3 linked regions of the Homo sapiens genome follow. The protein of the gene in region 1 interacts with the protein of each later gene in a biochemical or structural test. Each region holds a gene or a part of one and is shown in the gene's direction. Other genes may lie near its edges. The genes, in order: ITGB1, ANGPT2 and HEXB.

Region 1 (3,737 bases):
TGCTGGTGAGGAGGTGCATTTCTTTGGAGGAGAAGAGGTGCTCAAATTTTAGAATTTTCAGCTTTTCTGCTCTGGTTTCTCCCCATCTTTGTGGTTTTATCTACCTTTGGTCTTCCATGATGGTGATGTACAGATGGGGTTTTGGTGTGGATGTCCTTTCTGTTTGTTAGTTTTCCTTCTAACAGTCAGGACCCTCAGCTGCAGGTCTGTTGGGAGTTTGCTGGAGGTCCACTCCAGACCCTGTTTGCCTGAGTATCACCAGCGGAGGCTGCAGAACAGCAAATATTGCAGAATGGCAAATGTTGCTGCCTGATCCTTCCTCTGGAAGCTTCGTCTCAGAGGGGCACCGGGCTGTATGAGGTGTCAGTCAGCCCCTACTAGGAGGTGTCTCCCAGTTAGGCTACTCGGGCTCAGGGACCCACTTGAGGAGGCAGTCTGTCCATTCTCAGATGTCAGACTCCGTGCTGGGAGAACCACTACTCTCTTCAAAGCTGTCAGACACGGATGTTTAAGTCTGCAGAAGTTTCTGCTGGATTTTGTTCAGCTATGCCCTGCCCCCAGAGGTGTTGTCTACAGAGGCAGGCAGGCCTCCTTGAGCTGCAATGGGCTTCACCCAGTTTTAGCTTTTTTTTGCTTTGTTTACCTACTCAAGCCTCAGCAATGGGGGATACCCCTCCCTCGGCCTCCCTGCTGCCTTGCAGTTCAATCTCAGACTGCTGTGCTAGCAGTGAGCGAGGCTCCATGGGTGTGGGACCCTCTGAGCTGGGCATGGGACCCTCTGAGCCAGGCGCGGGATATAATCTTCTGGTGTTCCGTTTTCTAAGAGCATTGGAAAAGCGCAGTATTAGTGTGGGAGTGTCCTGATTTTCCAGGTACCGTCTGTCACAGCTTCCCTTGGCTAGGAAAGGGAATTCCTTGACCCCTTGTGCTTCCCGGGTGAGGCGATGCCCCGCCCTGCTTCGGCTCACACTCCATGGGCTGCACCTACTGTCCAGCAAGCCCCAGTGAGATGAACCCAGTACCTCAGTTGGAAATGCAGAAACCACCTGTCTTCTGTGTCGCTCACGCTGGGAGCTGTAGACTAGAGCTGTTCCTGTTTGGCCATCTTGGAACCTCTTAAATTATTTTTGTTTTGTGTGATTGCAATTTTGGCATGTTTCTTCAGGTGCAATGAAGGGCGTGTTGGTAGACATTGTGAATGCAGCACAGATGAAGTTAACAGTGAAGACATGGATGCTTACTGCAGGAAAGAAAACAGTTCAGAAATCTGCAGTAACAATGGAGAGTGCGTCTGCGGACAGTGTGTTTGTAGGAAGAGGGATAATACAAATGAAATTTATTCTGGCAAATTCTGCGAGTGTGATAATTTCAACTGTGATAGATCCAATGGCTTAATTTGTGGAGGTAAGTAAAGGGCCTGAAGTGGTTGTAAGATGTGATCCCATCTAATGCCACGAAAAATCTTGAGTTTAGTTGGTGCATAAGTAGAAAAGGGGTAGCTTGAGGGTCAGTCTCGCCCCTAGGTATACTTTCTCACATGTTGTTGCTTATTTTACTTTTCAGTCAATACTGTGATTGTATATTTTTACCATTTTGAGAAATGATATGCTTAATTGCAGGAAATGGTGTTTGCAAGTGTCGTGTGTGTGAGTGCAACCCCAACTACACTGGCAGTGCATGTGACTGTTCTTTGGATACTAGTACTTGTGAAGCCAGCAACGGACAGATCTGCAATGGCCGGGGCATCTGCGAGTGTGGTGTCTGTAAGTGTACAGATCCGAAGTTTCAAGGGCAAACGTGTGAGATGTGTCAGACCTGCCTTGGTGTCTGTGCTGAGCATAAGTAAGTATTTCCTAATTGCTTGAAATAGTTGATACTTCCTCTTGGCTCTCCTAAGCCTGTATTGTTTCTAGAACCAGAACAGTGCCAATATTAAAATATACTGTAAATAAAATGCCTGCCATGTGGAAGCCTACTCTTTAATTCTTAAAAGTTCTTTCTCAACAGCTAGTATATATTACATGGTATGAAGTGTGTCATGTGAGAGTTGTACTATTATTTTGATCTGAATGTGCTAGATAATTGAATTTACATGGTAACCTTTATTTTGGCAATTAAGATTTAATTTAATTTAATTTGTCATTACCAATTTCTTAATTACTGTCTTTTGACAAAACTAAGCCAAATTAAAGATTTTTCCTCTTGAAGGATTATTATACTAGTAACATATTATTTAAATTATTATGATTTTGGCCGAGCACAGTGGCTCACACCTGTAATCCCAGCACTTTGGAAGGCCGAGACAGGTGGATCACTTAAGGTCAGGAGTTTGAGACCAGTCTGGCCAATGTGGTGAAACCCCATCTCTACTAAAAATACAAAAATTAGCCAGATATGGTGGTGTGTGCCTGTAATCTCAACTACTTGGGAGGTTGAGGCTTGCTTGAACCCGAGAGGCAGAGGTTACAGTGAGCCAAGGTCACACCACTGCACTGCCTGGATGACAGAACAAGACTCCATCGCAAAAAAAAAATTATTATGATTTTATGTTACATATTTAATATGTGATAGGGCTAATTTATTTTACTATCTTTTATTTCTTAATAGGGTTTTAATTTGAACTGTAATAAATCTTTAATTTTATTATGGAAATTAGCATCTTTTTACATAATTTTTCTATCCACAAATGTAATGTTCCTCTTCATTTATTGAAATCTTCCTTCATAGCTGTTTGTTCAATTTGGTCACAAGAGTTTAGCATGGGAAATATGTTTAAGCAAATATTTACTGAAATAATAAAATGTAAATATCATAATTTGTGTTTTTTGTAACAGAGAATGTGTTCAGTGCAGAGCCTTCAATAAAGGAGAAAAGAAAGACACATGCACACAGGAATGTTCCTATTTTAACATTACCAAGGTAGAAAGTCGGGACAAATTACCCCAGCCGGTCCAACCTGATCCTGTGTCCCATTGTAAGGAGAAGGATGTTGACGACTGTTGGTTCTATTTTACGTATTCAGTGAATGGGAACAACGAGGTCATGGTTCATGTTGTGGAGAATCCAGGTAGAAATGCGATGATTGCAGACATTCTTTTCATATCTTGTATGTCTTGTTTCTGCTTATTTAGGCCTAACATCCAGAAACAGCCTCCAGCTGGAATATTTTAGGTCAAGTTGGGAAATTTTTCATCTCTCAAAGCTTAAAATATTATCTAATTAACTGTATAAGAAATAAGGAAAAGAGAGTTCCACTTTTAAGTTTTCTGAGTGGAGAGTTTGAAGATTAAATACAGTGATTTATATAAGACGCTTAGTGATTTATATAAGACACTTAGAACGATGCCTGACACCAAGTGCATATTAAGAGTTTTTTGATGATTGATGATTTTAAAATTAGAGCTTGATTTAAGCTTGAATACTGGGAAAGATAATTTGTTAAAGGATATTAATATAAAGTGTTGAATTTGTTCAACTTCTCCGGAGGTGAAACTTTTTTTTTTTAATCTTAGTTTTCCTAGTAGCCTTTTTGTAGATTCTTTGGAATTTTCTACCATAGTGTACATGTTTTTGTGTGAACATAAGCTTTCATTTCTCTTGGGTAAATACTAAAAATGGCATTTTGGAGCATATGGTAAGCATATGTTTAACTTTGTTAAGAAGCTGCCAGACTCTTAGACTCCCATACTGTTTTGAATTATCAGCTAGGTGTTTTGCAAATATTGTCTCCCAGCCTG
Region 2 (3,500 bases), on another chromosome or scaffold:
GAGTGTCAAGAGGGGGGACAGAGGATGCATGTGAAATGGGGATGCCATGGACACCGATGCAGAGGGACAGCCGCTAACCATGCAGCCCCATCACATTGTTTCATCTATGTTTCTCAGTCTAAGTGCAAGCTTCCCACCCCAGTGCACTGTCCCACCCCATGGCCCCCAGAATAACTGAAATATTCTGCAGAAAGATGAAAATATATAGTACTCTGGGATTATATGAGCCTCAGGTCATGGTTGGAAACATTAGGATTTATATTCCCTTTAAACATTTGCAGTAAAAGAAACTCATTTACACAGCAGGGAACAATAAGCTTTCACAAACCTCAATTTTCTCATCTTGAAAAATAAGTGGTGTCAATTGTTACTTCTAAATTCCCTTCCAGACTTAAGACTCTGTAAGTCACAATCTGATCCAGGGAGAGATAGACAGACTTGGATGTAAATTCTAGCTCTGCCATTTGTGGCTCTGGGCGAGTCATTTAACCTTTCTGAGAGCTCAGTTTCCCCATCTGTAACAGAACAATGATACCCTCAGCCTTGGGGGTTGTGACAACACAGGGACAGCCCCTGGGGTAGAACTTGGGACAGTAAATGGTAGTGGTCACCATTTTCACTGCCTTCAAAGACTACCAGACAACTTCTCTGCCTGGCAGGAGACCCGATTCTGCACTCATTTATCTAATTCAAGAAAAGAATGTTCAATTGGTCTTTGAGCACATCTTTTCCTGAAAGGCCAAAATACTGCAGCTTTAGTTTTGAAAAATTCATTTGGTTCTTCTACGAGAGAGAGACTGCAAGATGGCATTTATCAAAAGCATGTATGGTCATTTCCTTCCCTAAATTTCACAGGACACCTGACTCCTAACGGTTGTCTCTATGGTTTGCTATTTAACCCGTCACTTAATCATTGCCTCAGAGTTGAAGCAAGTCAAGTATTATTTGCTGAAAAACATCAAGCTTTATAGAAAGATATCAGGTTCCTGCACCATGCACCAGTGGACAGATTAAAGATATTAACTGCCCTTAGGTTTGTTGTAATTGGAGTGGTAAGGTCTTGGGAAGTATCTGAGGACTTCTGCTTTGCTGATCCTGATATAATCAATTTCAGCACTTTTACTCAGTATCTTCTGGCTGGGTAGATAACTCTATTTGAACACTATCTTTCTCTGCAAGTTTTATAGTCCAATTAACCATAATACTCCAGTTTTTACAAATCCTCTGTTCTTTTTTCTAAAAACCTGGATGAAGTACTAAGAAAATGTTCTAATAACCTTATCATCATCACTAATGGAATCAAAGCGAATACTCATATGGCTCAAATCATTTATGTGCTGGCAGTGACTCTCAGACATTTAAGAGTTTTGCCTCTGACTTCCATAACAAGATAAACTTGTTCTCTGAACAAGATAGAACATGTATTTAAGTACTGGTAACTTCATAGCAGTAATTTTGACACTGAAGAATCAAACATTCTTGGAACAAGGATAGGCTCACCAAGAGCCACGTCAATGCTTTCAACCCAAGAGCATACCATTTAGGATACAGAATTAACTTCAATATATGTACATGAATCCTCAAACCAAAGTAGCTTATTCAGCTGGTTTATGAAATAGATTTTTAAAAAGAAATATTGATAGAAGTGAGCAGCACTGACCATTTTGTTGACTGCAGGCAAATAAGAGGCAGTATTATTCATGAACTGATTTAAACTTGGAACTGTGTTGAGGGACTTTTGGCCTATTTACCAAAGGGTCAGGTTTCTCTGTTTTTGGCAGCATGATGTCAGTGGAAAAAAAACATAACAGGAATCAAAGAGACCTTATTCAAATCCTATATATCACTTAGAAGGTGAGTAACTGATCAAAATCGAACTTTGCTAAATCTTTTCTCCTTTCAAAAATGCAGAATTATGATACTACAGCAGAGTTGCTGTGAGATTATAGATAATATACACAAAGTATCTGGCAGAGTACTTGGATGAGAGTGGTGTGTAGCAATGATAATAAAAATCATAGCAATACAGAGCGGTAACAAGGGGTTAGCTTGTGCAGACTGATTTTCTACATCAGATTAATTTAAAATGAGGAAATAATTTTCTTCTTAATAAATGTAACTTTCATTAATGGCACCTATGTTTCCAAACATGAGTGCCACTGGGGAAGGCAATACGAGCTGGGTGACCTTCCTGGAGAGAGACCAGAACCATGCTGGGGAGAAGTCCCCTGCAGACCAGGCTGTTCCAGGGACAGTTCTCTGGTTGCACTGGCAATGAGGCATCAGGCAGCCACTGCACTTCCTCTGCACCCCTCTTTCCTCATGTAGGAAATGAAAGAACAGGAATAGCACTCTCTTGGTTCTCTTTTCGCTCTCCTCTTTAGGATTCTAACTCGTAAACAGAGAACAGTGTGCGTTGAAGCTTACCCTGCCAAATCGCCTCCATTATTCTCAAAAAGACCATGGGACACAACACAAGAAGAATATTTACAATTGGTTTTGAACCTTAACTTCAATATTTCCTACCTTGTATGTGGCAGAAAATTTATCTTACTTTCTGGAAAACATGTTTCGTTCTACTGTAATCTTTATTATTTAAAACTATTTATGTAATCTTATTTTCAGGGGTTTTTAATTTCATAATAAAACTCCAGCTGAGTTGAAATTGAGCATGCATGCGCTTAGCTTAAGAAAGAATTCTGTGTTCTGGACAAAGTTTAAACCCACAGAGCCAGTTTAAGAGCAGAAATAAAAAGAGTTGCTTAGAGAAAAACTGTGGGCAGTGAGCTATGTACAGAGAAGCGTGAAGTCATGCCCTTGAGGCCAAGGTGCTAAGCCAAGCCCAGGTCACACACCTTGCACCAGGACACTGGAGCCTCAAGGCCCTTGTGCTCAGATGTGAACCAAAAAATCTGATTAGTATTGCACATAAAGGAAGCCAAACAGCCCCACAGTACGAGAATGTAACAGGAGTCCTCCAAACCCTATGATCAAAGAGTATCCCCTTCACATAGCTCTCTGTGGAGGGGCAGGGGCTGGCATTTAGTGAAAGGTTTCAAGGCTGTGAACACAAGTCAATGGTTTTCTACAGGATGGAGATGTGGGGTTCGGGGCCAATCTGCCAAAATGTGCCATTCATAATGAATCTCTAAAAAAACAGCAATCTCTGGACCAGCCATCAGGGTGGGGTCTTTAGCCTGGAACAGATGATGACAAGTGAGTCATATTCTCATCAACACTTTATATTATATTACTGTTTATGTTTCACCATCATTTTAATCCATCACTTTCAATTTATTTGAAACCATCTGTTTCTTAGACAACCCCGATGGTCTACTCCGTGCCTTATATCCCAGAGAACCCTCTCGGCTGAGTCCTGCACTCAGGGTCTACATTCCTCCTGCTTCTGCTACGTAAGGGGGGAGTGGGGGGGCTCTGTCACTTATACCCTGCATTCCTGTTTGCAGGCCTACTGTGACATGGAAGCTGGAGGAGGCGGG
Region 3 (3,015 bases), on another chromosome or scaffold:
GACAGAGTGAGACTCCATCTCAAAAAAAAAAAAAAAAAAAAAAAAATGGAATAAAAAACCTGTTGCATTGAAGTAGCTGTAGAGGGCTCCACACCATAAGGAAGACTTAAGAGTAACATGCCTGCTTGTAAGGGTTTAAACTGGGCAACATGACTCCTGAGATGGTAGATTTGTGGAGAATGTACATTTTGGTATGGCAAAGTAAAGCTTGAGGAAAAACAAGATGCAGAAGAAAATGGAGATTCAAAAAAAGACTACTGTGAAATGAGAACACCTTTAGTGAAAGAGGGCAATCAATGATTAAATAGGAAAGATTTTTCAAATAAAAATTCTCTCTGCAAATAGCTTTAGATGGAGGAGAAAGGTGGTAAGGTAAAGAAAGCCATTTTTAAAGGAAATCAGCTTCTTGAAAAAATTGTTTGCAATGGATAATTAAGATAACTTGTAATTAAGTTTTTAGGCTTCTTTTTACTACCTACAAACTTTAATAGTTTTAAGTCTGCACAACTGATGTTAGGCATGTATACTGCTCTAAATAATAAACTGAGCATATCAAACTTCTAATGAAATTTTAATCACTTTTTGCTTCAGGGAATCAAATCCAAAAATTCAAGATTTCATGAGGCAAAAAGGCTTTGGCACAGATTTTAAGAAACTAGAATCTTTCTACATTCAAAAGTAAGTTGTTTGAAAGCCTATTTCTGTATTAATGCTTTTTGTAAAAGTTTATTTAGTAATGTGCTTTATTTTTTACATTTTCTCTACATCCTTTGCCTAAGTGTAGATGTGAAAAATCACTAAAGGAGGCAATACCCACTGCTTGCTTTAAATCAGTAACATGGTGACTCCAAGTATTTTCCAATAGCTGTTGAAATATAGGAAGGCAGTCATCTGTTCTAAAAACTCAGATTGGGCTGGGCATGGTGGCTCACACCTGTAATCCCGGCACTTTGGGAGGCCGAGGCAGGTGGATCACCGGAGGCCAGGAGTTCGAGACCAGCCTGGCCAACATGGTGAAATCCCATCTCTACTAAAAATGAAAAAATTAGCCAGGCATGGTGGCAGGTGCCTGTAGTCCCAGCTACTCGGGCGGCTGAGGGAGAATCTCCTGGGAGATGGAGGTTACAGTGAGCTAAGATCGCACCACTGCACTCCAGCCTGGGCAACAGAGTGAGACTGTCTCAATCAATCAATCAATCAATCCATCAATAAATATAAAACTCAGCTTGAAGCCCTGGCTACCCTGTGAAGTCTTCACTACCATCCAGCCCCTGGAATTCATTCCATTTTGTCAATTCCAGGAACATATATTTTACTATATACCTGTGCTACCCAATACAGTAGCCATAGCCACAGGTGTCTGTCCATATGTAAATTAATTAAAATTAATGAAAGTTAAAAATTCAGCTACTCAGTTGCATTAGCCACATGTCAAGTGTTCAGTAGCCAGCTGAGGCTAGTGACTGCCATACTGAAAAATGCATATATATATATATATATACACATTTCCATCCCAGGAAGTTCTACTAGACCGTGCTGCTCTAGAGGGATTGGCAAACTTTTTCTGTAAAGGGTCAGAGAGTAAAGATTTTAGGCTTCATGGGCCACATACAATTGCCCATGGACCACATACAATTTTTTTTTAACTTAAAAAAAACCTCAAATTTTAAAACTTAAAAAAAAATGCTTTACAAATATAAAAACCATTCTTAGCCCATGAGACATACAAAAACAGCCTGCAAGCTGTAGTTGCCAACCCTTATGCTGTACCATTTATTTGGCAAGCCCAGATTCCAGCCTTTGCCTGTTCAGCTTTTTGTGTGATGCATTTAAGTGTTATTTATCTGCAGAGCACCTGGCATTATGTAAATATCTGTAAATATTTGTGGATTGTCAGTAACTGTTACATGTAATTTATGTGATATGACAGGCTAGATCGTGGTCCCTACCATTTTAAGACAGCCATAAAATTGTAAGAGATTGCTGTTTGTACAATTTCCTGAGTTGCCTACCAACTCAATTTGAGGCCACTTCTTCCTATCTTAGGGGCATGTTTAACTCATTCATTCAGCAAATGATTATTAAACCCCCATACTATGTTAGGTTCTGTATCAAGTGCTAAAAAGGAGGAACTACTTGTGACACTTCCCAACTTGAGCTGCTTCTGCTATAAAGCTGAACTATACTAAAAGGCACCTCTCAAAATGCAAGAAATCCTTGGTAGAAAATGTACATGTTTTAAATATATTGTTAAGCTTATGATCTAAAATAACTATAATTTTTTTGTAATACTAGGGTTTTGGATATTATTGCAACCATAAACAAGGGATCCATTGTCTGGCAGGAGGTTTTTGATGATAAAGCAAAGGTGAGCATTGTGAAGACTGCATCTGATCAATATAAGAGACTTAATTATTTTTCTTGGGGCAACTGGGAATTTGCAAGTCTAACTACTAGTATTACCTTTCTAGTGTAGTTAGTGACCACTTTGGACCTCATAGTTCCAAGCTAGGTTTGGTAGAAATAAGACTAAAATGCAAGTCTCAGCTTTAGTTAACTGAACCTATGTGGTATCCATATATAAGCAAAAGTTAAATATTCAAACCTAAGGTTGATGAAACTTTTAAGTCCCTAAAATGAGTATCACATGGCACTAACTCTGAAGAAAAGAGGAAAAAGAAAATGCAGATTTTTTTTAAGGATCTTAGAAAATTATGTTCCTAGTAATAATGCCTTAAACTTTCAATTTCATCTACTGTTCTAGGCCTAATAATATGTATTGCAATTTGTAACGTTAATAGCTTGCGCCGGGCACAATAGTTGAAGTATGGAAAGACAGCGCATATCCTGAGGAACTCAGTAGAGTCACAGCATCTGGCTTCCCTGTAATCCTTTCTGCTCCTTGGTACTTAGATTTGATTAGCTATGGACAAGATTGGAGGAAATACTATAAAGTGGAACCTCTTGATTTTGGCGGTAAGTGAAGCAGTTGGTCCAAGTGTTGTGGGTTACTGT

What was found.
Region 2: the proteins of ITGB1 (region 1) and ANGPT2 form a complex in vitro, tested with the Homo sapiens proteins (one study listed by BioGRID).
Region 3: the proteins of ITGB1 (region 1) and HEXB form a complex in vitro, tested with the Homo sapiens proteins (one study listed by BioGRID).

What each region holds. Positions count from the first base shown.
Region 1 is NC_000010.11:32,909,553-32,913,289, reverse strand, and holds part of ITGB1 (integrin beta-1 isoform 1A precursor), read left to right. Parts: intron 1-1,165; coding exon 1,166-1,404; intron 1,405-1,619; coding exon 1,620-1,842; intron 1,843-2,834; coding exon 2,835-3,067; intron 3,068-3,737.
Region 2 is NC_000008.11:6,514,746-6,518,245, reverse strand, and holds part of ANGPT2 (angiopoietin-2 isoform b precursor), read left to right. Parts: intron 1-3,467; coding exon 3,468-3,500. UniProt on the Homo sapiens protein: Binds to TEK/TIE2, competing for the ANGPT1 binding site, and modulating ANGPT1 signaling. Can induce tyrosine phosphorylation of TEK/TIE2 in the absence of ANGPT1.
Region 3 is NC_000005.10:74,715,996-74,719,010, forward strand, and holds part of HEXB (beta-hexosaminidase subunit beta isoform 1 preproprotein), read left to right. Parts: intron 1-591; coding exon 592-678; intron 679-2,295; coding exon 2,296-2,368; intron 2,369-2,801; coding exon 2,802-2,976; intron 2,977-3,015. UniProt on the Homo sapiens protein: Hydrolyzes the non-reducing end N-acetyl-D-hexosamine and/or sulfated N-acetyl-D-hexosamine of glycoconjugates, such as the oligosaccharide moieties from proteins and neutral glycolipids, or from certain mucopolysaccharides.